5 separate regions of the Homo sapiens genome follow, and regions 1, 2, 3 and 4 are each linked to region 5. The links come from fine-mapping of genetic effects on gene expression. A gene starts in region 5. Each other region holds a variant in brackets. All regions are shown on one strand. Distances are from middle to middle. Region 1 has its middle 44 kb from the start of NDFIP1. Region 2 has its middle 2.7 kb from the start of GNPDA1. Region 3 overlaps LOC107986455 (a long non-coding RNA gene). Region 4 overlaps NDFIP1 (Nedd4 family interacting protein 1). Region 5 holds the start of NDFIP1 (Nedd4 family interacting protein 1).

What was found.
Region 1: its variant is fine-mapped to the expression of NDFIP1 in whole blood (INTERVAL, PIP 0.99).
Region 2: its variant is fine-mapped to the expression of NDFIP1 in whole blood (TOPMed, PIP above 0.99).
Region 3: its variant is fine-mapped to the expression of NDFIP1 in whole blood (TOPMed, PIP 0.98).
Region 4: its variant is fine-mapped to the expression of NDFIP1 in whole blood (TOPMed, PIP above 0.99).

The regions. Positions count from the first base shown.
Region 1 is chr5:142,061,756-142,066,859 of GRCh38, reverse strand. No RefSeq gene overlaps it. Among named protein-coding and RNA genes, the nearest start is that of NDFIP1, 44 kb to the left of the region's middle. The variant AT/T (reference allele first, on the strand shown) is at 2,004.
Region 2 is chr5:142,013,221-142,018,321 of GRCh38, reverse strand. No RefSeq gene overlaps it. Among named protein-coding and RNA genes, the nearest start is that of GNPDA1, 2.7 kb to the right of the region's middle. RefSeq lists an enhancer at 144-203 and a cis regulatory region at 3,756-4,028. The variant T/G (reference allele first, on the strand shown) is at 2,393.
Region 3 is chr5:142,177,806-142,182,909 of GRCh38, reverse strand. The region is part of intron 1 of LOC107986455 (a long non-coding RNA gene); the gene reads left to right. Among named protein-coding and RNA genes, the nearest start is that of NDFIP1, 72 kb to the right of the region's middle. RefSeq lists a silencer at 1,140-1,340 and an enhancer at 1,567-2,085. The variant G/A (reference allele first, on the strand shown) is at 3,089.
Region 4 is chr5:142,150,010-142,155,113 of GRCh38, reverse strand. NDFIP1 (Nedd4 family interacting protein 1) reads right to left here. Exons shown (of 8, transcript NM_030571.4): 8 at 674-3,383. LOC107986455 (a long non-coding RNA gene) reads left to right here. Exons shown (of 3, transcript XR_001742907.3): 3 at 1-703. Among named protein-coding and RNA genes, the nearest start is that of NDFIP1, 44 kb to the right of the region's middle. The variant GGGGTGGGGGTGA/A (reference allele first, on the strand shown) is at 2,618.
Region 5 is chr5:142,106,526-142,111,629 of GRCh38, reverse strand. NDFIP1 (Nedd4 family interacting protein 1) reads right to left here and starts at 2,851. Exons shown (of 8, transcript NM_030571.4): 1 at 2,593-2,851. The coding sequence starts at 2,655. RefSeq lists silencers at 2,422-2,491, 2,562-2,691, 2,752-3,021 and an enhancer at 2,599-3,100.

The DNA of each region.
Region 1 (5,104 bases), 45 kb after region 5:
GAGCAGGTATTGCCCTAAGTGAGTTGTGCCACCAACCTAGGACATCCAACAGTTAGCTTTTAACATAATTACTTTCTTCCCTGTTAGTGTGTTGTAAGAAAGCTTCCTTTCGACTTAACACTTTAGAAATGTTGCTTATAAAATGCTTCAGTTCTCAGGGATTTCATGGTGAAAATGAAAGATGCTCTTGGATAACTTGAATGTGTCATCCAGGCCAACAGAGCTGAGATGCAGTGCAATTTCTCCCCCGCCTCTGCTATCATCCCTCCCTTCACAGATGGCACCTCCACTCACCCAAGTTTCAATCAGACTCTGGGAGTCATCCTTGAGTCCCCTTTTCCTTGTCCTCCACCCTCGGTCCCTCAGCAAGTCCTGCTGGGCTTACCTGCAAATCCTCTGTCTCCATCCATACCAGCACAGGCAGCCCTTCAGCTCTCACCTGGGCCAGCGCAGTGGTTTCCTCATGGGTCCCCTGCTTCAACTCTTGCCTTCCTGCAGGAAGTCCATTGTCCCCTAGGCTAGCAGAGGGAGCATTTAAAAGCATCAGTGGGATCACTCCCCTCTTGTGCTTAAAGGCAACCAGTGCTTCCTATTGCCTTCAGAGTGAAAACCAGACTCCATGACAAGGCTCTGCTTATCCCAGCCCGCCTTTCTCCAGCCCTGGCTTCTGCTGCTGCCCCTGACCCCCTCATTTCTCTGCCCCTAATGCCATGGCCCGCCGCTCTGAGCCTTTGCACTTGCTCTTCCTTGGACCACTCCCAACACCTGTAGCTCCTTCTCAACTTCAGAAAGACCTTTCCTGACCATTCATTCTAAATCAGTCCAGCCTTAATTTCTCTGGATCATGTCGCCTGTTTATTAGCATCTGAGTCTCTCTCTCTTTCTACTTATTTGTGTGCTGTGTTCTCCCCAACTAAACTGGAGGCTCCCTGAAGGCAGGAGCCTCGTCTGTCTTTTTCACTGCTCTGGCCCAGCATTTTGTGCGGTATATACTTGCTGAATGAATGAACAAATGAATGAATGAATCAATGAGGAAAATGAAGAGGAAATCCCAGGGGAATATATGGTCTGAGGAGATACTCAAGGTAGGGGTGCCAAGGGAATTGCCACTCCATACAGAAGCCTGGTTCCTCCCTGTGAGGGAGTCTGGGTGGGAGCTGATCTGAGCCAGAGGCATTGGCCGTGGAGTCCAGGGGTCTCCTGTGTGGCTTCCTGAGATGGCAGAGGGAGTATCCCCACCCTGCCCCCATCAGAAATACCCAGACTGCTGGAGCAAAAGGGCACAGCTGCTGCCTCCAATGCCGATTTCCACACAGCCACTGCCTTCTTCCACCAACCACAGAGCCCCTGAGTTGCCATAGCAACAGAGGACTGCACCAGAGTCCAAATAGGGATGTCTGCATTTCCCGGCACTTCTGGCTGGGGAGGCAGGGGGTGGTCAGTCCACAGCTGTGCCTATGCCCTGTCTCTGACCTGTCCTGGTCTCTAAGCAAAGCACCCTCCTCTGCCTTTCCACCCTCATTTCACTTCCTCACTTGAAAATCTTAAGAAGAGGATCTGGAAAAATAACTAACAGGTACTAGGCTTAATACCTGGGTGATGAAATAATCTGAACAACAAACCCCCATGACACATGTTTACCTATGCAACAAACCAGCACATGCACCCTTGAACTTAAAAGTTAAAGAAAAAAAAAAAGGCCGGGCGTGGTGGCTTACGCCTGTAATCCCGGCACTTTGGGAGGCCGAGGCAGGTGGATCACCTGAGGTCAGGAGTTCGAGACTGGCCTGGCCAAAATAATGAAACCCCGTCTTTACTAAAAATACAAAAAATTAGCTGGGCGTGGCAGCCTGCACCTGTAATCCCAGCTACCTGGGAGGCTGAGGCAGGAGAATTGCTTGAACCCAGGAAGTGGAGGTTGCAGTGAGTCAAGATCGCGCCACTGCACTCCAGCTTGAGGGACAGAGAGAGACTCTGTCTCAAAAAAAAAAAAAAAAAAAAAA[AT/T]TAAAAAAAAAAGTCTCAGGAAGCACTCATGTCAGGATCTTCTCTGCTTTCTCTCCGCACTGTGGAAGGAGAGGGGAGGGATGGCCTTGTCTTTGTGTCCTGTCCAGGCCCACAAATTGGACAAAAGAACAAAGGAGCAGGATTCTCTGATATCTCACAGCTCTCAAGCCTGCCTAAAGAATGTTTTCTTTTTAAATACCACTTGGTTAGTCTAGCTGGTCACCTCCTGGAGTTTTTTAGTTTCTATCAACTGCCTTTTTGGTACCCCTAAAGAAACTCCTGAAGAAGCAAAACCTGCCTTTTACTCCCCAGAAGCTAAGAGCCTTTTGGAGGAGCTGCTGTTGTTGTCTGTCAGAATAACAACAACAGCATCTACCACTCACTAAGTGAATGTGTGACATGCATCACTTCTCTCCATCCTTACAACCGCCCTGCGAAAAAGGTGTTAGTAGTCCCATTTTGTATGTAAGGAAACTGAGGTCACATAGCTGCTAAGAGGCCACGCTGCAATCTGAGCCCTGGACTCTCAGACTCTGAATCCCAGGCCATTGGCCGCTGCTTTATGTTGGGAGGCACAGCCAGCTCCATGGAATGACATATTTAGCTTCCCCAGCCCCAGCCAGTCCCCTGGGTCCTCACGTGGCTCCCTCCCAGCCATGGTGGCTAGCAGTTGTTGGCTCTGTCCCCATGCCACGTCACCCCCACAGGGATCTGATGGCAACTCGCTCAAAGTGGGAACAAAGGCAGCATTTTTAGCCCCTTCTTTAGAAACCTTGACTCCTTGCCACATACGCGGCCACTCGGATTGGCTGTTACCATGGTAACTGGCTGCCGCTCTCTGTCCAATTATGTCAGCCCTGAACTGCAGGGCTTCCGTGCCCATTTCCTGCCCGATCTCCCCAGCCTGCCAGCCCAGCCCCTCTGACCTCCAGGCAGCTTTGAATGCCTATGCTTTCTAATTACAGCTGCCTTTCAATGCCCCTGTCCTTTCTGAACCCTTTGTAATCTGCATGGAACTTCTCCCAACAGCCCATTGTCACACTCAGCTCCCTGGCCCTTTATCTGTGGTTTCTATAGCATTGATTGTGTATCTGGCCTTGTACCCAGCATACACACACGCCCCAAAGGGCACACAGCTTGGGCACAGAAATTTCAAACATCCCAGGCTCAGTGCCTGGCACTGAGATGTTTCTCCTGCAATTGTGACCTCGTTGGGGGTCTCAGTGGTCTGATTTCAAGCCATCTTCTTTGTACATTCATTTGTTCATTCAATGACTCATGAGCACCTATGATGTGCCAGGCACTAGGGATACCAAGTTAAACAAGACAAAATGGAACTTTACATTTTTGGGGGGTGCAGGGGTGATCAATGTAAACACGTAAGCAATTAAGTAAATACATGTAATTTTGGATCATGTTAAGCACGGTGAAGAGAAAGAAATGAGGGACCCCAATTCTGGGATGGACACTTGCTTCTGTCCTCACTCAAGCTCCCCACTTCCAGCCAGAGGGGTTCACCAGATGAAGGGGGTGAGGAGGAGGTGCTTGGTGTCCATTGGGCACTTTGGATGCAAGTGGCAGAGACCAAAGTTCAGCAGCTTAGGGAAAAGGGTGCTCTGGGCAGAGCTGCAGCTGGAGCTCTGAGGCCTGAAAGTCACCAAGACTCAGTTATCGTCTCTTCTCTCTGCATCCCTCTCAGACGTCAGCTTCCTTTCCTCTCCTTGCAGCAGCTTTTCTTTTCTTTTAATTTTTAAATTTTATTACTATTATTACTATTTTTGACACAGAGTCTTACTCTGTCACCCAGGCTGGAGTGCAACGGCATGATTTCGGGTCACTGCAACCTCCACCTCCCGGGTTCAAGCGATTCTCCTGCCTCAGCCTCCCAAAGTAGCTGGGACTATAGGCGCCCGCTGCCACACCTGGCTAATTTTTATATTTTTGGTAGAGACAGGGTTTCACCATGTTGGCTGAGTTGGTCTCGAACTCCTGACCTCAGGTGATCCACCCACCTCGGCCTCCCAAAGTGCTGAGATTACAGGCTTGAGCCACCATGCCCGGCTAGCTTTTCCCACATGACAGAAAGCATGGCTGTGGACAGATCCTATGAATTTTACCTTTCACTGCCTCAGTCATGGGAGACAGCCTGACCTCAAGCATTCTTGAAGTCTAAGAGACAGAAACCAAGGGAAGAGGCTTAATGGCCCAGGTCAGAGGTTCCCATACCTGGACTAATCAACTAAGCCCAAGGATGGGATCAGAGTACAGACAAGGAGGCTCCCTGGTTTCTGGCTAGCCCTCTGTGGTTGCAGAAGGCAGACAATCCCAGCATCTAGAACACCCTTGCAAAGTGAAACTCCCCTAGGTATGTGCCCTTCACTCCCTCACCTCATCCCACCCAGCCCTACCCCTGCTTTCTTACTTTCACAGTCTCACTTCTGCTCCTGAGAGGCAATCTTATGGCCTATGCTCCAGCTCAGTCCCAACTCTTTAAAATAAATAAATAAATAAATATATAATTTTTAAAAATTTATATTATTGACTAGAGTCACCCTGTTGTGCTATCAAATAGTATGTCTTATTCATTCTTTCTATTTTTGTACCCATTACCCAACCCCCGCCTTCCCCCTACTACCTACTATGTCCATGAGTTTGTTTTGATTTTTAGATCCCAAAAATAAGTGAGAACATGCAAAAAATTAAAATTAAAAATTAAAACAAAATTTTTGTGGGGATAGAGTCTTGCTCTGTTGCCCAGACTGGAGTGCAGTGGCGGGATCATAGCTCACTGCAGCCTTGAACTCCTAGGCTCAAGTGATCCTCCCACCTCAGTCTCCGGAGTAGCTGTGACTACAGGCATGCACCACCATGCCTGGCTTTTTTTTTTTTTTTTTTTTTTTTTTTGTAGAAACAGGGTCACATCACCTTGTCCAGCCTGGTCTTGAACTCCTGGGCTCAAGCCATCCTCCCACCATAGCCTCCCAAAGTGTCGGAATTACAGGTGTGAGCCACTGCACCCAGCCTCAGTCCCGACTCTTAAGGTCAGTCTTTGAGGTTGACCTCAAGTGAGTCCCACTCACTTCATGCATGACCCCAAGTC
Region 2 (5,101 bases), 93 kb after region 5:
TATTATCTCACAGCTTCTGTGGGTCAAGAAATCAAGAATGACTTAGTTGAGTGGTTGTGGTTGTGGTTGTGGTTAAGGGTCTCTCATGAGATTTCAGTGAGGCTACTGGCCAGGGTTGCAGTCATTTGCAGTCTTGACTGGGACTGGAGGATCTGCTTCCAAGATGGCTCCCATGGCTGTTGTCTTGTTTCCTCGCCACCTGGGCTTTTCCATAAGGCTGCTCCAGTGTGGAAATGGAGCAGCTGACATCACTGAGAAGGTGATCCCAGAGAGAAAACAAAGAAGAAGCTGCAATGGCTTTTATGACCTAACCCTAGAAGACACACCCATCATTTCTGCACTATCCTGTTGGGTTACACAGGTCACCCCATCCACTGTGGAATGGGACTACATAAGCGTGTGAATCACTAGGAGCCGTCTTGGAGGCTGGCTGTCACACCGAGTTACTAAAATTCATAAAAATGTAATTCCTAGAGCCTGGAGGTCCACAAGGGTATGGACTTTGCTTTGTTCATTGTTGTGTCCCCAGAACCTAAAATAGTGCTGGGCACATGGTAAAGGCTCAATAAATATTTTATAAATGAATGAAAAAGAAGACTGCAGGGCAGGTGGCAATTTACTTGGCTTGGATGGAAGCATAAGATTCATTAAGTTTTCAAGGTTTTGTTGTTGTTTTTCCTTCAAGACAAAATCATTCATTTCATACAAATATTAGGCAGAATGTATCCAACCCGCAGCACCCACTTTGAAAAAATATGATGAGTCAATGAGACGATGCTTTAAAAACTTTTAGCACAGTGACCAGCACAGAGTAGATGGTCAATTACTTTGATCAAATCTTTTTATTAAATTTTTTTTTTTTTTTTTTTTTTTTTTGCCAAATGGGGCAGGGGGTTTTGTTTGAGACAGAGTCTTGCTCTGTCACCCAGGCTGCAGTGCAGTGGTGCGATCTCAGCTTACTGCAACCTTCACCTCCCAGGTTCAAGCGATTCTCACGCGTCAGCCTCCTGAGTAGCTAGGATTACAGGCACGTGCCACCACACCCGGGTAATTTTTGTATTTTTAGTGGAGACAGGGTTTTACCATGTTGGCCAGGCTGGTCTTAAACTCCTGGGTTCAAGTGATCTGCCCGCCTCTGCCTCCCAAAGTGTTGGGATTACAGGTGTGACCCACCACTCCTGGCCAGATCACATCTTAATAACAAGTTAGTGTGTGTCTGTGGCAGATTGTATTTTTTAAACATGGCCATACTTGTACATGTATCCCGTCCAACATGCTCTTCTTATAATATTACTGAACTTCTTACACAGAGAGATGGGGGTCTATGTTTTCTCTTTTTAAATCTGGATAGGGGCTTGTGATTTCTCCAACCCACAGAGCTCAGCAGAAGTGATGCTATATGACTTCTGAGACTAGGTCAGAAGAAGGATACAGCCTTAGCCCATCTTTGTCTCTTGATACGCTTGCCCTTGGAACCCACCGCTATGTTGTGAGGAAGCCCAGGCAACAAGGAGAGCCATGTGTGAGTGTTCCACTGACAGTGAGCACCTGTTGTCAAGACATGTGAGTCAATGAGCTTTCATACGATTCCAGCCCCAGAATTTGAGTCTTTCAGTTGAGGGGCAAGATATCATCGCCACTGTATCCTGTCTGAATTTCTAGCCCACAGAAACTGTGAGAAATAAGTCATTATTGTTGTTTTAAGCCACTAAGTTTTGGGGTAATCTGTTACACAGCAATAGATAACTAATAAAATATCCTTCCAGAATTTCCTCTAACTAGCTTCAGGGGAAAATGATATTTAATTATGTATTCACTCATTCACTCACTCAACCACGAAACCCAAAAGGGTATATTTGGCTTCAGACATGCTATTCTAGGGGGCTCAAATGATGTCATCAGAGTTCTGTGTCTCTCTTCTATTTGTTGTACCTTTCTGTAGCTCTAAGCTTTCCTCTGTTTTACGGCTCAAGATCTCAGGAGAAGTGTATTTTCCCCCAGTAGTGGCATAAACCCTAAGGAAGATCTGAATCACCTGCTCTAGCAGTGAGTCATGTTTTCAATTTCAAGTCACAGGAAATTCTCCTAACAATGATTTAAAGTTTAAGCCATAAGGACATTTACCATTTACTTAGAAGAAGTCCAGAAGTAGGAGGTCCCAGCACTAGTCAGATATCAAGGACATAAGTGTTTTCCCTCCTCCACTCTATCCTTATGCTTGGTGCCTCACAGTTACAACGTGGCCTCCCCAGCTTCAGTCATCACAACTGCCTTCAAGGCAGGAAGGAAAGGGAAGGAACCAGAAACCGCCAGTTTGTTTCTCAAGCACAGCACTTTTCTCAGGAAGTAAAATATCTAACCAGAAGCCATCCTCCTCCCTCATTGGGCAGAA[T/G]GAAGTTACTTGGCCACCCCGTAGCTGTGGGAGAAGCTGTGAGAGTCGTTGACTTTCCAGTTTCTCCAGTGGGAAGCAGCAAGGGAGAAGGAGTCTCTGAATGGCTGCTGGGTTAGTGTCTTCCATGCCTGCCTGGCCTTGAACTAATCATGGCCAGAGCCATGGAGTCTCTAATTGGTTTGCTCCTAAGTCAAAGGGTAGGGCCAGCACCACACAAACTCTATGAATTGAGCAGAATTTGGGAGGTAACATCTGGTCAGGTTGTTTGCCCAAAGCAAGGGTGCATTAGAAGGTATAAAAATATCTGACCATACAAGAGTTGCAGAGTGTTCCATTGCATGGATAAACTCACAATTCTTTTAATTTGGCAACTTTAGTTCCAAGACAAGAGGATGGGAGGATAGGTGTGGGTAATAGTTTAAACACAGATGTGGAGTAGGAGGAGTACAGGGAGTCAGGAGGTTAGGGCTAGAGAGCATTTCAGTATGGTTAGAGAGTGGGCTGTAAGGAGGGTTAGGAGGAAATAAGGGGTAAGTAATAACAGCTGGCTGTGAATGCCATGCTATGCTAATATTTCATTTAATAGTCACAACAGCCACACGAGGGCAGTATTACTTAATTTCCACTCAATTCTTATGTTTCAGGTAAGAAAACTGAGACCTGGAGAAGTTGAGTCATTTGCTTGAATTACTCACTAAATAACCAGAAATTAGCCAGACCAGAATTGAAATGCAGGTCTTTCCGATTAGTCCCCACGCTGATCCAAGAGCCTCCAGGCTTCGCAGAGACCCTGCACTGGTTCCCTGCAGAAGGGGTAACTCAGGGGAAATGGGCTTAGTCACCAGAAGTCAGTCACTCTCCTCCTGGAAAGGTCTGGATGCAGATGCTGCAGACCTGGCCCATGTTATCAGACGTGATCGGAGATTGGAGTTGGAGCTTCATTGTGAAACATCTGCAGTCCTCAAGCTGAGACAACATTTCTGGCTGGGGGCGGTGGCTCATGCCTGTAATCCCAGCACTTTAGGAGGCCAAGGCGGGCAGATCACCTGAGGTCAGGAGTTCACGACTAGCCTGGCCAGCATGGTGAAACCCCATCTCTATTAAAAGTACAAAAATTAGCTGGGCATGGTGGTGGGCATCTGTAATCCCAGCTACCCGGGAGGCTGAGGCAGGAGAACTGCTTGAACCCGGGAGGCGGAGGTTGCAGTGAGCAGAGATCACACCACTGTACTCCAGCCTGGGCAACAGAGCGAGACTCCATCTCAAAAAAAAAAAAAAAAAGATTTCTGACTGAATTTAAAAATAAACAAAAACTACACCAACACCGAGCCATTCACAGCCTCTCAGGATTTGGAAAACAAAACAAAACAAAACAAAATAACACTGAGGCAAAGAGCAAGTCCCCCACACTGTAAAGGTATCAGCTCCACCATCTGGTCTCATCAGGGCCTCACCAGATGAAGCCTACCCCTAGCAAGCTGGTCTGGAGCTGCAGTTGGGCCCAAGGGCTGGGTGAGCGCCTGGGGCTGTCCACAGTGAGCAGATTCAGCAGAATTGCAGAACGTGGCCACCCGGCTGACTGAGGAAGGCCCTGTCCCGTGGGCATAAAGCCAGGATTCCTTTGGCCTTTTGCTGCTGGAGGAAAACTAGGCTGATTCAGAAGGTCTCACCACTGCTCCCTAGCACTGACTAAAGTCCGGGATGTCAGACTATGAGGTCATATATCACAAGTCTCTGTACGCCTTTGATCCCCAGTTTCCACATCAATAAAATGGCGGTAATCATATCTGACGATTGGGCGGGATTCTATGAAATAATGCGCACAAAGCTCTGGCAAAACCCTATGTAATGGAAGATGTTACTGATGACCAGCACTCAAGTCCTTCCTCCAGCCTCCGCATGGAAAGTTCCCAAGTGTCCCTAGAAGTCTGGAACACTCTAATGTTGACTGGAAAGAATAAGATGGATCTCTTTTTCTGATATGGAAGCGTCCCAAATCCAGTCATACCAGCTGGGAGGCAGTGCCCGCTAGCGGTAAAAAGCATGGATTTTGGATTTGGACAGATCCCCCTGAATTGAAGGCACAAGGGAAACCACTTGTGCCTCTGGCCAAGTTAATTTTTCTCTCCAAGCGTCAGTTTCTCCACCTGTTAAAAAGTAACGGCAAACCTACCTCACTGGAGCTTAATAAGGATTAAGTGAAATAATGCAGGTCAAATATCCGAGCCTTGATATATATAAGCCTCATGTGTATGTGTTCCCATTTATGTAAAATAACAGTGTAAGCATATTCAAAGAAAGCAATTCAGAATGTACTCTTAAACTAAGCAATGGTTATCTTGGTGTGGGGAGTTGGGGAAACCAGGGGCCTGCCTTTTTCTCTATTATATAATGCTGCAAAGTTTGATCTTTAAAAAAGGACATTAAAAAGCCCAATTGTACTTTAAACAACACAAGTTTTAATACTTGGGTAAATAAATGGCATCTAAACAAAGAAAGAAACTGAAGGCAGAGCCAGGCCCAACCCTAGGAGACTGAGGAAGCGATTCTGCTTTGCCTGCCCCCAGCTCAACCCCTGCACTAAAACCCCCCGGCCCCAGCCCCAAGGTCCAGGGGGTTGTATTCCTGGGGGCGACCCGGCGCCCCTCAAGTCTCCCTCCTCTTGCACACACACACACACAAACCAGACTCGAATCCCCGCCTCCCAAG
Region 3 (5,104 bases), 71 kb before region 5:
CAGTGCCAGTAATTGACATTTTGTGAGCATGTATTTGCCGGACTCCATGCTGGCTGATTTACATCTGATATATCTTTTAATTCTCACAACAATCTTATGAAGTAGGTTATATTATCCCCATTATACAGATAAATAAACTGTAGCTGAGAGAAGTGAAATGACTTGCCCAAGGCTGTGCAGCTAGTCTGTGTGCCTCCAGAGGGCTTTCTCATCACACCTCTGAGCTCTGACTCTCCAACCTGCCCCAGCTTTTCCCTGCATTCCAATCTCACCCAACAGTATCCATTCCTCCAACACCTCCAGACATCTGTTCAAGCATTTTCCTTGGTCTGGAAAGTCCTTCCTATCTTTGCCAACCATGGAAAGGCTCCCTATATTAGTCTATTTTCACACTGCTATAAAGAACTGCCCCAGACTGGGTTATTTATTTATTTATTTTTGAGATGGAGTCTCACTCTGTTGCCCAGGCTGGAGTGCAGTGGCGCAACCTTGGCTCACTGCAACCTCTGCTTCTCAGGTTCAAGCGATTATCCTGCCTCAGCCTCCTGAGTAGCTGGAATTACAGGCGGCCGCCACAACGCCCGGATAATTTTTGTATTTTTAGTAGAGATGGGGTTTCACCATGTTGGCCAGGCTGGTCTTGAACTCCTGACCCCAAGTGATCTGCTCACCTTGGCCTCCCAAAGTGCTGGGATTACAGGTGTGAGCCACTGTGCCTGGCCGGGACTGGGTAATTTATAAAGAAAAGATGTTTAATTGACTCACAGTTTTTCAGGTCTGGGGAGGCCTCAGGAAATTTAGAATCCTGGCAGAAGGAGAAGCAGTCACGTCTTACATGGAGCAGGCGAGAGAGCAAGTGTGTGAAGGAGACACTGTCAAACACTTGTAAAACCATCAGATCTCGTGAGAACTCACCCACCATCACGAGAATAGCATGAAAGAAACTGCCCCCGTGATTCAATCACCTCCTTCCCTTGTCACATGGGGATTAGAGGTCCCTCTCTCACTTAACATGTGGGATTACAATTCAAGATGAGATTTGGGTGGGGACACAGAGCCAAACCATATCACTCCCCTTATCTTTCAAGGCTTTGCCTAAAGTCTGCTCCCCTCTAAAGACTTCCCCAGCCCTCCTCACAGCCTGAGGCAGAACCGCTGCTCCCATTCTTGGCCTGTAGTTCAGAGCATCAGGGCACAAACTCACTGTGCTTGCAGGGAAGAGTCAGGATCAGTTCACCTTTGCACCTCCAGCACCTAGCACAGTCAGCTACCTGCCACTCGGCAGAAATTCAATAAATGTCTTATAATTAAGTAAAATCAAGCATATCATTCCCAGAATAACAAAATAGAGAGCAAACCTTCCAACCCCAGGACATTCTGGTCCCGTCTGCTCCCTAAGAAGTAGCTGACTGCTCTGGTTGAGAGGGGAGCAGAAAGAAGCTTAGAATTAGGCTGAGAGCCCCGCAAGCAGCCCTGGCAGGGGTCCAGCTCAGGGAGAGCCAGGTGGGGCTCCTACAGCAGCCTTTGTGATAGTGAGGAGCTAGGCAAGCTCAGCTGGGTAAAGGCCATTTGGTTCTGGGCGGTCATGGCCCTGAGCCTGCAGACAAGGCCTGCAGCACCAGCCCTGCACGCCCTGCGGTCCCTTTGGGTCACCCACACTCACTGGCCGCCTCTCTTCGTTTCTGATTCCACCTCAGAGAGTTATTGCCTTTATCACAAGGAAGCCAGGAGAACAAGTTACCTCCTGGGCTTATCTTCAAGTCCAAGGGTCTCCTTGCTGCTGGAACAGGAGGCTGTTCCCCCTGCAGTCCCAGCTTTTCCTGTTTGCTCATCTCTCATCAGAGAATTCTGAGCAGAGGAGAGAAGAAGCAGACGAAGGAGAAATTGTACCATGGAGACACCTGTGAAGGGCTGGACTGAGGGCTGGGCTGAGGCAGGCATGGGGCTCTTCCTGGACAGCAGGGTTGTGGGGTCTGCTTGTTGCCTTCCAGCCACAGAATGAATTAAAGACCCTTGGAAATCTCTTCCAGCCCCACATTCTAGAATCTTTCTGAAGATTGGTCACATGTGCCTGTGGGCAGGGTAGCCATAATTTATTGTTCTGAAATACTTTTTTTTTTTTTTTTGAGACGGAGTCTCGCTCAACTGTTGCTCAGGGTGGAGTGCAGTGATGCGATCGTAGCTCACTGCAGCCTCAACCTTGTGGGCTCAAGTGATCCTCCCACCTCAGCCTCCCAAGTAGCTGGGACTACAGGCGTGTACCACCACGGCTGGCTAGTTTTTGTATTTTTTGTAGAAACAGGGTCTTGCTACGTTGCCCAGGCTGGTCTCAAACTCCTGGGCTCAAGCGATCTACCTACCTCAGCCTCCCGAAGTGCTGGATTACAGGCATGAGCCAACATGGCCGGCCCAAAATTCTTTTAAAATAAAGAAGTCACAGGCGTAAACCAGGCCTACCCCAGGCAACACTTTTCTACCTAAGGTGTTGAGGACAGGGAATGTTTACCCAAATTTTGGTAGATCCAAGATTAAAACCTGGAATTACCATTCAAACTTTTCCAAAAGAAATGGCCACTTCTCAACGAGAGTTTGACAACCCACTTCTCTGAGTAACATAATAAGATACATGATAAATCATAATAGCATAGAGCCTTTGCCTAATGTACCCTGGTTTCTCCTGCAGCTGCTCTGCACAGAGGCACGTGCCCTGGGGCATTTTCTGGGTGAAGCAGACACTCCCAGGGGAGAGCACAGAGATAATGCTAAATGGCCTGTTGTACAGAATGATTCCTGGCAGTGCCACTCCTTGTAAGGGGGAAGGGAGAAGGGCCTTCATCTTTTCCCAGGTGTGAGAGGGGAGGGACGAGCCAGTGGCCACTGATCTCTGGGTAGAGTCCCTTTGTGTCTTGTCTTTTGGGCTGACCCCACATGCCTCTGGGAGATGGGGGCTGGAGTAAGGGGGTGGTACTTACCGAGCTTCCCCGAGACCAGAATGTGGGCACAGGGTCCCGGTTCCCCTTTCTTCCTCCCTGCTGGCTCTGCTGTGGGATTATTTTTCAGCACAGGGACAGGTTTCAGGGCAGTGCAG[G/A]ACTTAGGGGCAGCCTACTCTTACTTGGGGTGTAACTCAGTGAGCCTACACAGAAGCAGGGTTCCTCTCCTAGCTCCTCAGGTGAGGTGAACGAGTTTCTGGGATGAGGCCTTAGGAACCCCCTCTGTAACCTTGAGAAATCAGGGACAAGTGTCCGTGGGTGACCAAAACCCCTGACCTCCCAGGAAGGATGGTGTATGTGTGAAGTCAGAGATCAAAGGATCAAGTGTGGAGTCTGTTGGGAGCACTGGTTCCCTGAACTCCAGGCAGTTTTGCCAGGCCCCGTACCACAGTCCATCAAATCCAGTCAACCTTTAACTTCAATACGTAGCTTAGCTTTGTACCAAAAATAAACACTTGTGAAATAATAGATTTTGTAAATATTTTATTACATAAAGAAGATAGAAGCACTTGATAGATATGGACACGTGTATATTTTAATACATAATTATTAAACTTTAAAAAATCTTTATCCGGTCGGGCACGGTGGCTCATGCCTGTAATCCCAGCACTTTGGGAGGCCGAGGCAGGCGGATCACAAGGTCAGGAGTTCAAAACCAGCCTGGCCAATATAGTGAAACCCTGTCTCCACGAAAAATCCAAAAATTAGCGAGGTGTGGTGGTGGGCGCCTGTAGTCCCAGCTACTGTGGAGGCTGAGGCAGGAGAATCCCTTAAAACCGGGAGGTGGAGGTTGCAGTGAGCCGAGATCGCACCACTGCACTCTGGCCTGGGCGACAGAGTGAGACTCCATCTCAAAGAAAAAAAAAAATCTTTATCCATGAACCTCCCGGAACCATCTCACCATTTGGGAAACATAGGTATAGTGATCTGAACTCAGGCACCAGCAGGAGAGGGGAGGGAGAGAGCAGAGTGAGGTTGGGGAGTTGGGGAGTTACTTTCCCAGCTCCTTCCCTGCGGAGTCATCCTGGGCTGGCTGTGTCCCTCTTTCAAAGCCACAGCACCTGCCAGGGAGGCCTCCCCTTATGCCAGCCCTTATGGGGCCTGGTGCCTGCTCCCTTCCTTGCTGCTGCTTCTTTTTTTTTTTAATTGAGACAGAATCTCGCTCTGTCGCCCAGGCTGGAGGGCAGTGGCACCATCTTAACTTACTGCAACCTCCGCCTCCCAGGCTCAAGCGATCCTCTCGCCTCAGCCTCCCAAGTAGCTGGGATTATAGGTATGTGTCACCATGCCTGGCTAATTTTTGTATTTTAGTAGAGACAGGGTTTCACCATGCTGGCTAGGCTGGTCTAGAACTCCTGACCTCACATAATCCGCCCGCCTCGGCCTCCCAAAGTGCTAGGATTACAGGCGTGAGCCACTGTGCCCTGCCAAAGATTTTTTTTAACTGCTGCAATACATTTAATACCTTGCTAACACATTGTTTTGATGATTACCTAAAAATGGAAAAGTTAAAATTTCAAAAGTAACACATACCTTGTAGATAGTAACTAACTTGTCTCTCACCTTCTCTAAACTGTTTCTTTTACCGCCTGGTAACAGAGCAGCATGGTTGAATGGAGAGTGGGCTTTGATACAGACAGAACCAGTCTCCTAGACTGAAGAGCTGTGTGGCCTGGGGTAAACTGTGTAACCTATCTGAGCTTCAGTTTCCTCATCTGAAATATAGAATGATAATGTCTGTCTGTCTTCCAGAGATATTAAAGATAAGTGCATAATACGTGACCAATAAAAGATTGCTATCAGGCCAGACAATATATTGGAGCTTATTTTTACAAGTCTTTTTGGGCTGCATTGTCCTCTGCTCGGTTTCTTGTGGGCACCCGTCTCACCTCCCAAACTAGACAGTGAGCACCTTAAGGTTGCCTTCTGTCCGCTTAGCCTGAGGACGCGGCCCACAGACAATGCTCCGTGAATGTCAGGTGAGTGGTGCGTTGAAGCACCTTTGGTCCATCGTTATTATATGAAGAGGGGAAAAAATAAAGACTGGAAACATTTTTCCATTCAGGAAGAGGTTGGTGACACCAATGAGCCTTCCACAAGCAAAGTGTCAGCAG
Region 4 (5,104 bases), 43 kb before region 5:
CCAGGGGTCTAGTTTTGTTAGGGTCTAGATTCTCACCCCAGAATCTTACCCCCTCAGGCAATCACTCAAATTGAAATATCACTTCTATTGGTCCTGATACTCTACTTCAGTAGTTATCTTACTTCTTCCTTTGAATGTAAACCATTTATAGCTAAGTAGAGTATATTTTAGTATAAGAACACAGTGAAGGCTGGGTGCGGTGGCTCACACCTGTAATCCCAGCACTTTGGGAGGCCGAGGCGGGCGGATCACGAGGTCAAGAGCTCGAGACCAGCCTGACCAACATAGTGAAACCCCGTCTCTACTAAAAATATAAAAATTAGCTGGGCGTAGTGGCGCGCGCCTGTAATCCCAGCTACTTGGGAGGCTGGGGCAGGAGAATCGCTTGAACCTGGGAGGCGGAGGTTGCAGTGAGTGGAGATCGCAACACTGCATTCCAGCCTGGGCGACAGGGCGAGACTCCGTCTCAAAAAACAAACAAACAAAAAACACATAGTGAAGACCAAACAAAATTTCATCTGTACTAATAATGACTCACGGTGGGCCAGAGCTCAAGTCAGTATGTAATAAGAAAGCAAAGGGAAAAAAAAAATCATTTACTTCACTAAAACTTCTGTTGTTTCTTTAAAACTCTAAACAAAATTGACCCTATAAGTAAAGATATTCATTCTTATCATTTTTTAACAAGCAAATTTTAATAATGCCTTTTATTTCTATACAAAGCAATGTAACTTTCTGAAAAAAAAAATGGCTATACAGAACCCTTTAAACATAAGAGTACAGAGTTTCAAATGGCAACAAGAAGTTAAGAAACATAGGGCACTGTGTCGTTATGGGTGAATCCTAGTCGTCCTGCAGCCCAAGGTCCAAGCTAGTTTACTCCATAACCTTAAGTAAATAACCGCGGTTCCTATGAATACCTTTCCAAAACCATTTATTATAAAAACTCACTCTTTATCCATTATCAGTATTAACGTATCAAAGTGAGAAAGAACATGGGAGAGAAAAATGACAATTAATGCAGCGTGAACATTTTCATCCTGAATACCAGTAAGGACTCTAGATGATATATGGTGCCCACTTCATGTGCCTCAAAAGATTTTAATTTTCAGAACATTTAAACGATTAAAGAGAAATCATCCTCTTAACTAGGTATTTTAAAGCGTATCAAACTGTAGGTTTACATTTGACAAAGTCTTATGGACCACCAAATACGTAGAAATAGGAATTCCAAATATTTCAGTTCGTTGAATATACAAAACCAAATAAGGCGCAAGGACCTGAAGAATAAACACAAAGCTAGTCTACAATGTTTGAGTTAACGTGATTTAGGACCCTTCTATTTTGTTCTGCAAGATAATTTACATAGTTCTCTCTGCTATATGTGTCCACATCTATTCAGATTGTTACAGATCTTTTCATTCTGGAACTTAGAACATTATAGGCCATACAAACTTCCAAACTCCATTGTTGCTATAATCTGATTCGAAATGGAAAAAAAAAAATCTTCAAAGAAACTTCCATAAAACTCCCTTCTCTATTATCAAATATAACTTCTGAAAAAGAACACACTACACTATTATTCATAATAATCCATAAACTGGTTAGAGGGATCATTGAAATGTCAATCCAGGAGGCTCCTAATTTTCCTGTTTGGCTTTCAAACAACCCACACTTCTGTGCATTATATACTGATATCCTGAACGACTTCCTATGCTGATTCTGGATATACATACACAGCAGATGAATGGACATTTGCAGCTATCAGACTGTGCTGGTGCTGATTTGTGTAGTAATTTGACCATCTTGGTGTATTTTTTCTTCATATTTCTTAAATAGAAAATGAAAAAAATCAAATGGCTGATATCATAAAAACAACTGGTCTCTAAATTTAAGATTGAGACAAGAATAGAAATCAGGAGAAATGAGGAATCTTTAATTTCAACTGACTGAATGCTCACAGGACTCAAACCAGTTGGTGCATTCAACTGAGAAAAAGAACAAATGAGAACATGCAGAAAACACTGGAAATAAATTATCTAAAATTATGTCTAAAAATTGAAGCATAATTAGGAATTCCAGAATGATTTAAGATCTCTACAACTCCTCTCTACTTTTTTAGTCCATTATCTTTTACAGAACCAATGTTCAAATACATTTTTAGGAATGTATTTAGTAGGATATAAGAGGACTTCTTGTGCTGAAAATGAAGAAAAAAATTGACCCAACATTAGTTTTTTAATCGCATCTACTGAATGATTCCCTAAGATTAGAAAAAATTGCCTTAGCAATCAACAAATGCAAGCCAAGAAATTAAGCACTAATCTACAGTAAAAGGTGCTACACAAGAGATATTTATTAATGTTCTGTTGTATTTACAGTTTTAACATAGCAAACCAAGATGAATTACCACTTGGGCAGAAAGCACATCATTCTACATTATAACCCACTGGTTTCTGCTAACACATTGTAAAAGCAAGTAGTACAGTATGTTAGGGATCATCTCAAAAGTTCCAAGCTACTTCTTTCTTTGCTCCTAAGTACCTAATCCTCTCCTTACTCCCAGACTTTGGCCTAATCACCAGGAGACAAAAGGAAAATAAGGGGGGTGGGGGTG[GGGGTGGGGGTGA/A]AGAACGCTAATTATAGAAAGAGTGTCAAGAATTACATTTTAGTAATTAAGCTTCATTTGTATCCTAGTGCTTTCTGTTTTATACAGTGACAACACCTTTAGAATCCCTTAGGTACAATAAGGTACCGCAGAATTGTGAATACAGGCTATAAAAAATTAATGCTTATTATTTACCAATTAAAGACTTATTTTTGACCACACCTTAAATGTATTTTTGCACTATGATTTTGCTTCCAGGTGTTCATACAGAATTGAATAAATTTCTAGATTAACTTGAACAGCAAATATGGATTATGTGCAAAAACACAGTCATAGCAAAAGTTTAACTTTTGAGAAAACCCCTTTAAAATGGCCAGCATTATACATATCTTACAATATTTAATTCCAAGTTCATTTTGAGATGGAGGATGAATAAAGCAAGACTGCCCCCTACCGACTACAGGGACATGGCTCATGCTACTTAAAATGACTACAAACAATATATAAGGCATTATTAATACATCACAGACTTGATTGCAAGAGCTTTTTCAAACATTAACCACTAATGATTCAATGATTACAGAATTCTGCATTAACTATTAAAATTTTACACCTAGGAACAAATAGAGAGAAATGATCTTTTCAACAGTACTTTATTTTTTTAAAGCAGGTGATTATTCCTCTGTGTTCTGCATCTTGATTCACTTCCTGCAGGTGTTCTCTTGCTTCTTGAGAGAGAATTCATAAATGCAGGAAGGCCTTTGCCAGAAAACATCTGCCAGAGAAGGATATTGAATATTGAAACTCTAGTTAGCTTGTTATTTTGGCTAAGAGAAGGATGTAGTCACAAAAGAAGGCAGGATGTTTGGAGACACAAGTGCATTTTAACATAGTTTTAAGATTACTGTATACTGACATCACGGTATTCAATAAACATTAAAATTTCAGTTCTTAAAGTTATCAAGGCCTCTAGAACTAGAAAAAACTGGAATGCTTTTTCTAAAAACTCCTGAAGTCAGGAGTCTCTCTTTCCAAACCTCTTAACAAAAGAATACAATGGAAGCAGTGCTACTGCGCATCCCACACTGAACGCTGTCAGCAATGACTGAAACTTGGGACAGAGAGCATAATCCAAGTGCACAAGTAATTTTCCTAATATACCTGAAGATACTGTTTACCCTAACAATTCCACTAGATATTGCACAAGGAAGCTTTCCAGTAAGGATGCCAACCATGTCATGCTATACCTCAACCGAGCATGGCAAAATTAGAAAACAAGGATAAACTCACAGGTACCACAAATACTTTTAAAAAACAAGTTTTCCTAAAAAGTCATTGTATTTGGGGCATGTTTCTCTTAAAATAATACATGTACTTTCAAACTAAATTTTAAGAAAGGAATATATCTGACTGAAATAAATGCTCTCGAAATAATGCCTACGCATTTTACTAAATGCAGTTTTCATCTAATACTTTGAGGCATTTCTGTACTAGTATATTGTTTTGGTTCTCATGAAAATAACTTGGGAAAAACTACAAGTAATTCCCTATATTAACAATAAAAGAAGAACTATTAAGAATAAAAGAAGAAACACTAAAGAGATACATTTACTGCTTAATAAACATTTATTGAGAAACTATTTTGTGGTACTCAGCAAGAAGTGAGAGTTGGATGGGCTCAAATATCGGCCTATAACTTACTTTTCTATCCTCCAAATTACTATAAAAGCCACAAGAAACTCTTCTATGTCTTTTCTTTCTTTTCTTTTCTTTTTTTTTTTTTTGGAGACAAGAGTCTGTCACTCAGGCTGGAGTGCAGTGGCGCGAGCTCGGCTCACTGCAACCTACACCTCCAGGGCTCAAGCCAACCTTCTGCCTCAGCCCCGCAAGTGACTGGCACTAACAGGCGTGCACCACTATGCCCGGTGTCTTCTGTATCTTTTCTGATTAGATTACTGCGTAAGTATTTAAAAGGCTGCCAAAATGGAGAGAGACTACAAACACACTGGAGGAAATGAACATATTTTAATATTATCAACATTTTTCCAAACTATAAATTCATTTGTGTTGTGATTTGAAGTAAACCACTGAAACTGATACAAGGACATCTTTTCTTTAGATTGAGAGACATAAGAGATTGAAAGACCTCGGAAAGCACAGAGACAGAGACACAAAAATATGAGGAACTCTAAAAGCCAAGCAGAAGCAAAAAAGAAAATTGGCAGATGAATATTAAATGAATGTTTTTGCAATGAGGCCAGACTCATTATAAACATAAATAATTTGTTTTATCAGTTTCTATATATTTTTTTTTTTTTTTTTTTTGAGACGGAGTCCCGCTCTATCACCCAGGCTGGAGTGCAGTGGCACAATTTCGGCTCACTGCAAGCTCCGCCCCCCGGGTTCATGCTGTTCTCCTGCCTCAGCCTCCCGAGTAGCTGGGACTACAGGCGCCCGCCACCACACCCAGCTGATTTTTTGTATTTTTAGTAGAGA
Region 5 (5,104 bases):
CAATTTGATTAACCAGATCAAATAGAAGTCAGAACAGCCCTGTGTGACAACCAAAGAGTATCATGCTCCTATCAAGTTGCCTGGACAATTCACCATCATTCTATAATTCAAAAGCCTTTTAAAAATGCATATTCGCTGACCAGGCATTTCCATGGCTAGTAATTTATGCTAAGGAAACGGTTGAAGACGTATGTGAAATAAATTTCAATGAAAAAAACTGTAAACATTCTTAGTGACCAAAGATAAGCAATTAGTTAAATTATGATTCAGCCATACAATTACATGCCATGCAGACATTAAAAATATTTTATATAGAAGACATTAATAACATTGTGTGAAGAACATTACAAAATAGAATTATGAACCTATTTCATTATTTATCTAGCATGCCTTTGTAGATACATGTGCATGATACACATGTGCAAATGTATGAATGCACATGTCTGAGAACAAGATACACATGGACACGTGCAAAAGTATGTGCAAGTATGATCGGGGCTCATAAAACTGCACACAAATGTACAAAGATATGTCTGTATACGTATATATGGGTACATAAGAGAATACATATGCATGTGTATATATCTGCTAATGCATACACCTATATCTGGACTGTGAGCCTGTGTTTTAAGTAGGTGAGTGTGTGTATATCCTTATAATCACTACTTAGCAGCCTGTGACCTTGAGGCAAGTTACTGAGCCACTTTGAGTCTTTGACAATGAGAACAAACCCTGGTTCATAAGGGTTTGGTATGAATTAAAAGAAAAAAAAAATGGATGTAAATTACTTAATACTGTGATTGTTGCATAAAAAAATCAATATTAGCTTTCCTGCATTCCTTATCTGTACACACATATACTGATCTATAACTATGTATATTTACATAGCTATAAACCCACAAGAATGCACATTAAAATATTACCTTTGGTTATCTATTTGGTTTTTGTTTAGGGAGGGTTTTGCAGTTTTTTGGGCTTTCATCTTTTACAATTTTTCTAGGAAGATTTTTTTCTCTTTTTTTTATACTTCAATTCTGCATAATTAAAAAATATTAAATGCCACACTAAGGAATACATGATTTTGATACTCCAGCAAATTTTTTATATTCTAGCAGTATGTCAGCATTACCTAATAGCTCAAGAAGATGGCAGTACAAAGAAAAACCACAGCTCTTTTGCTCGTTAGCCTTATCCAAGTCAGGATGAAAAGGATGAAATCAGATGACAGTATACAGTAGGGGTGATTTGCAAACACTGTGGTGACAGTTAAGTGGCATCTGTTATTCCCATTTTATTAAAGCAGTAAGGAACCCGCAGGCTGCCCAAGGTCATAGAAAAAAAGCATGTGCTAGATCCATGTGCTCTGAAGAGATCTAAGGATTAACTGCATTGCCACAATTTGGGCCGTGTTTATAAAACCAAGAAGTGAAATTCTTAACTAGTCATTTTGGGAGTCCAAGCCTGAGTGGGGACGGATTGCAACACATGGCTGATGATAGCAAAACAAACCAGTAACCGGCCGGCCGCACCAGGGTTAATCTACGTTTTCATCGTACTGGCTGGCTTTCCTTACTTCTAAAATATAAAATTGTAGATCGTCTAAGATAGGACATTTTATTTGATAAAAGGAGGATTGACATCTGTATGCACCGAAAGCATCTGAAACATGACAAACACAAGCCGTTATTTGCGGTTCCAATCAACATCAGTTTACCACCTGGCTCAATTCCCACCATTACTGTATGTTAGATTAACACTTCCAAAAACCCTGCAGAAGGTCTCTAAATTTCCTGGGGGAACTTAGCTACAGACGCGGAGTGAAACAAGCAGCTCTTTTCCCTGGGGCCTCAATGTATTAAATCAAACCCGAGAAAATGATCCAATCATTTCCTATACATTTCCTCCCCAGCTATGCCATCAAATCTCTTAAAACGTCACTTCCAAGCATTTAAAATACACCCGGCACACGCCCTGCAGACTTCATCGTAGCTCTCCCTTTTGGGGCATCACCACAGCCAAACATCGCCTCTTCCAAATCTACTGCAAACTGCGGGCTTGTCTCTTGCTTCATTTTTTACTTTTGTCTTAAAACGGAGGCGAGGGGGATGGGTTTCGACAAACTAGGCTCTGAAACCCTGAGCAATAGCATCTTGCTGTGGGGAGCTATCGGCAGCAGCAGAGATTTTAATCTTTTCTCTCCACCCAGTTTCCGTTTCATGCTTTTTTCTTTCTTTCTTTTCCAATGACATCAAACCAAAGGTGGAAAAATGAAAAACGAATGCCTCAGATCGATGCCGCCTGTGGGTCGCGGGTTCTGACTCAGGGACCCGCCCGCCCTGGGAAATGCGGGAAACGAGGCCGGGAGGAGGACTTTCCACCGCCGGAGTCCCACCTGGGGTCGCAGACGGGCAGGCCGGGCCCGTGGCAGCCTCGAATCCGAGCCCGGGGCCCGACCCGCCCCTCCAGGCCCAGCGCGGCCTGCCAAGCCCCGGCGTCGAGTTGGCCGCGGGCCGGCCAGAGAGGCCTGAGGCGGCCAGCGGGCAGGGCAGAGCCAGGGACCGGAGTTCGGGGCTGGAGTCGGGCGCCGCTTACCTGCTGGTACCGGCTGCCGCAGGCCGGCTCGACCGCCGCCAGCGCCGCCAACGCCAACGCCATGGCGCAGCCGGCAGCAGGGAAGCAGAGCGAGCGAGCGAGCTAGCTGAAGGGGCGCGGCCGCTGCGGCTTGGGAGCGCTGGGAGGCCGAGGGGGACGCGCCTTGGGTGGGTCTCGATGGCCGCCGCCGCTCCCGGGCGAGACGCTCTTCTCAGGCTGTAAGCACCGCCGCCGCCGCCGAGGCTCCGACGCGGCCCCTGGGGAAGAGGCGGGGACTACGACGACGGCGCTGCGCCGCCGCCCCACCCCCGACTCGCGCCGCCCTGCCCGGCCCGGCCCGGCCTAGCCTAGTCCTGCGCCGCCGCCCCGAGGTGCACCGGCCCTGGTGTAGTTGCTCCGACGACCTGAGCCTCCGAGGCTCAAGTGTTGTATTCGATTCCACTAAAAACGAATTACTAACAGGCCAGCCCAAAGCAAGGGCGATGCTGCTGATGAGCACCTCGTGCCAAGCACTGAGCTTCACCTACGTGCCCTCATCCAGCCTTCAGCACAACCGCCCTGACGCAGGGACCACAACCCCATTCTCGAGGTCGTTGGCAACCAGAGAGGTTGACAATCTTCACAGCAGCGACCTGATCCCTCGTGTCTGGCAGCAGAATCGTGGTTCTTATTCACTCCCTTCTTTTATCTGCCGTACTCATAAACCAGGGGTCAGCCAGCGACAGGGAGGGGGCCAAATCCGGTCTGCCACCATGACTGTGAAAAGTACATGAAATTCAAGTTTCAGTGTCCATAAATAAAGTTTTATTGGAACACAGCAGCACCCATTTGTTTGGTATGGCCTGCAAACCCTATAATACTTGCTATCTGACATTTTACAGAAAAAGTTTGCTAACCCTAAATCCTTGAGAACTGCTTGGATCTCAAATCCTACTTAGGGTGGATGATTATAATAGCATCCTCATGTTTATGCCATCCTTTAGTATTTTAACAGCCTCATCTGCGGAATCGGAAACAATATTTTCCAAAAAAGCTCCCTGACTCGGTGACATGAAGTCAAAACTTGAAGGGTTTGGCCATGCTAAAGGCTTTCCCGACCACAGGAACAGGTGCAAAGGGCGGTCCAGAGAGAGATTGTCTTGTGGAAGAACAGAAAGGAGGCTGGCATAGCTGCCATATAGGAGATACAATTATCAGTGTTTCACAGATGAGGAAGTTATGCCCAAAGAAATTAAATATCTCACCCAATGACACAGAGCTACTAAGGGGTGAAGCTGGAATACAACTCCATTAAGCCAGCTTTCTTACCCAGTATTGCACAACTAAATTATAAGCTTTGTGAAGACAAGAGTATTTGTCTTTTAAATCTTATTACCTCCCAATGCCATGTAGCACAGTATAGCTATATAGCAGGCTTGCAAGGTCTGTTTCTTTCACACCCAGCCATCTGCAATTGCTTCTACCCACATGTCCTACAGAGAAAAACAAAATCTTCCATCTCTGAAGCTTGTTGCAATTCCCATTTCTTCTTCATTGCCTTTCCAAGTTGGCAGTGTAGAGGTTATATTAATATGATTATTGTCTTAGCTTCTAATTTTGAAGTTTAGTTAATTATGTATTTTAAAAGAGAACTGTGTTTAGAACACACCCTGAGGTTTCTGTATATATGAGAAAATTGTAATCAATAAAAACTCTAGATGTTTACCATCTTCACTTTGAGTTCTCTCTCAGCATCCAAACTCCTCTATATCTGTCGCTATTTCCAAGTATTAGTCTCACATATTAACATGCTGGGAGAGCGAACAAATGTAGCAACATTCCAAGCTCTCAAGTCTATTTAGAGCCTCCTTACTCTGTCCCTCAGTTGTTGTTTATAATCCAGAAAAACAACATTTAAATGTAATCAGGTACAGTGAATCAAACATAATGTCCTGCCATGTAGTCTTGTATAAAGGGTGCAAAAATCTAATTTGAAATTTTTTAAAATGTCAGCAGTGGAAAGTAGAAATCCAGACTTCTTTGTCCAGATTGTCTACATTTACGTGTAAGAAAGAATAAAAAAGAATGTCCACTGGGCACAGTGGCTCACATCTGTAATCTCAGCACTTTGAGAGCCTGAGACTCGAGGATCACGTGAGCCCAGGAGCCAGGAGTTCGAGACCAACCTGGGCAACATAGTGAGACACAATCTCTGAAAAAAAAAAAGAAAAAGAAAAAAGAATTTGTCGGCCTACCACATAAGGCTATTGGAGCAACAACTGCAATCTTTATGCATGTCTGCAGTGCTGTGGCTTTTGTGGAAAAGATGTTGCTACCCTTCTATTTCTTTCCTAAATTACTTTCTCCCTCAATATCTATATACTCCCTGCATGTGGACACAAATATTTATCATAATATAAATAACAGGCTTTATCATAGAAATATTTTGCATTGAAAGTAAAAGAAAATTGATCTCCAACTTCTAATCTCCTTTTCCTATGTCCTCAACCAAAATGTTTTGTAGTCACGGTAA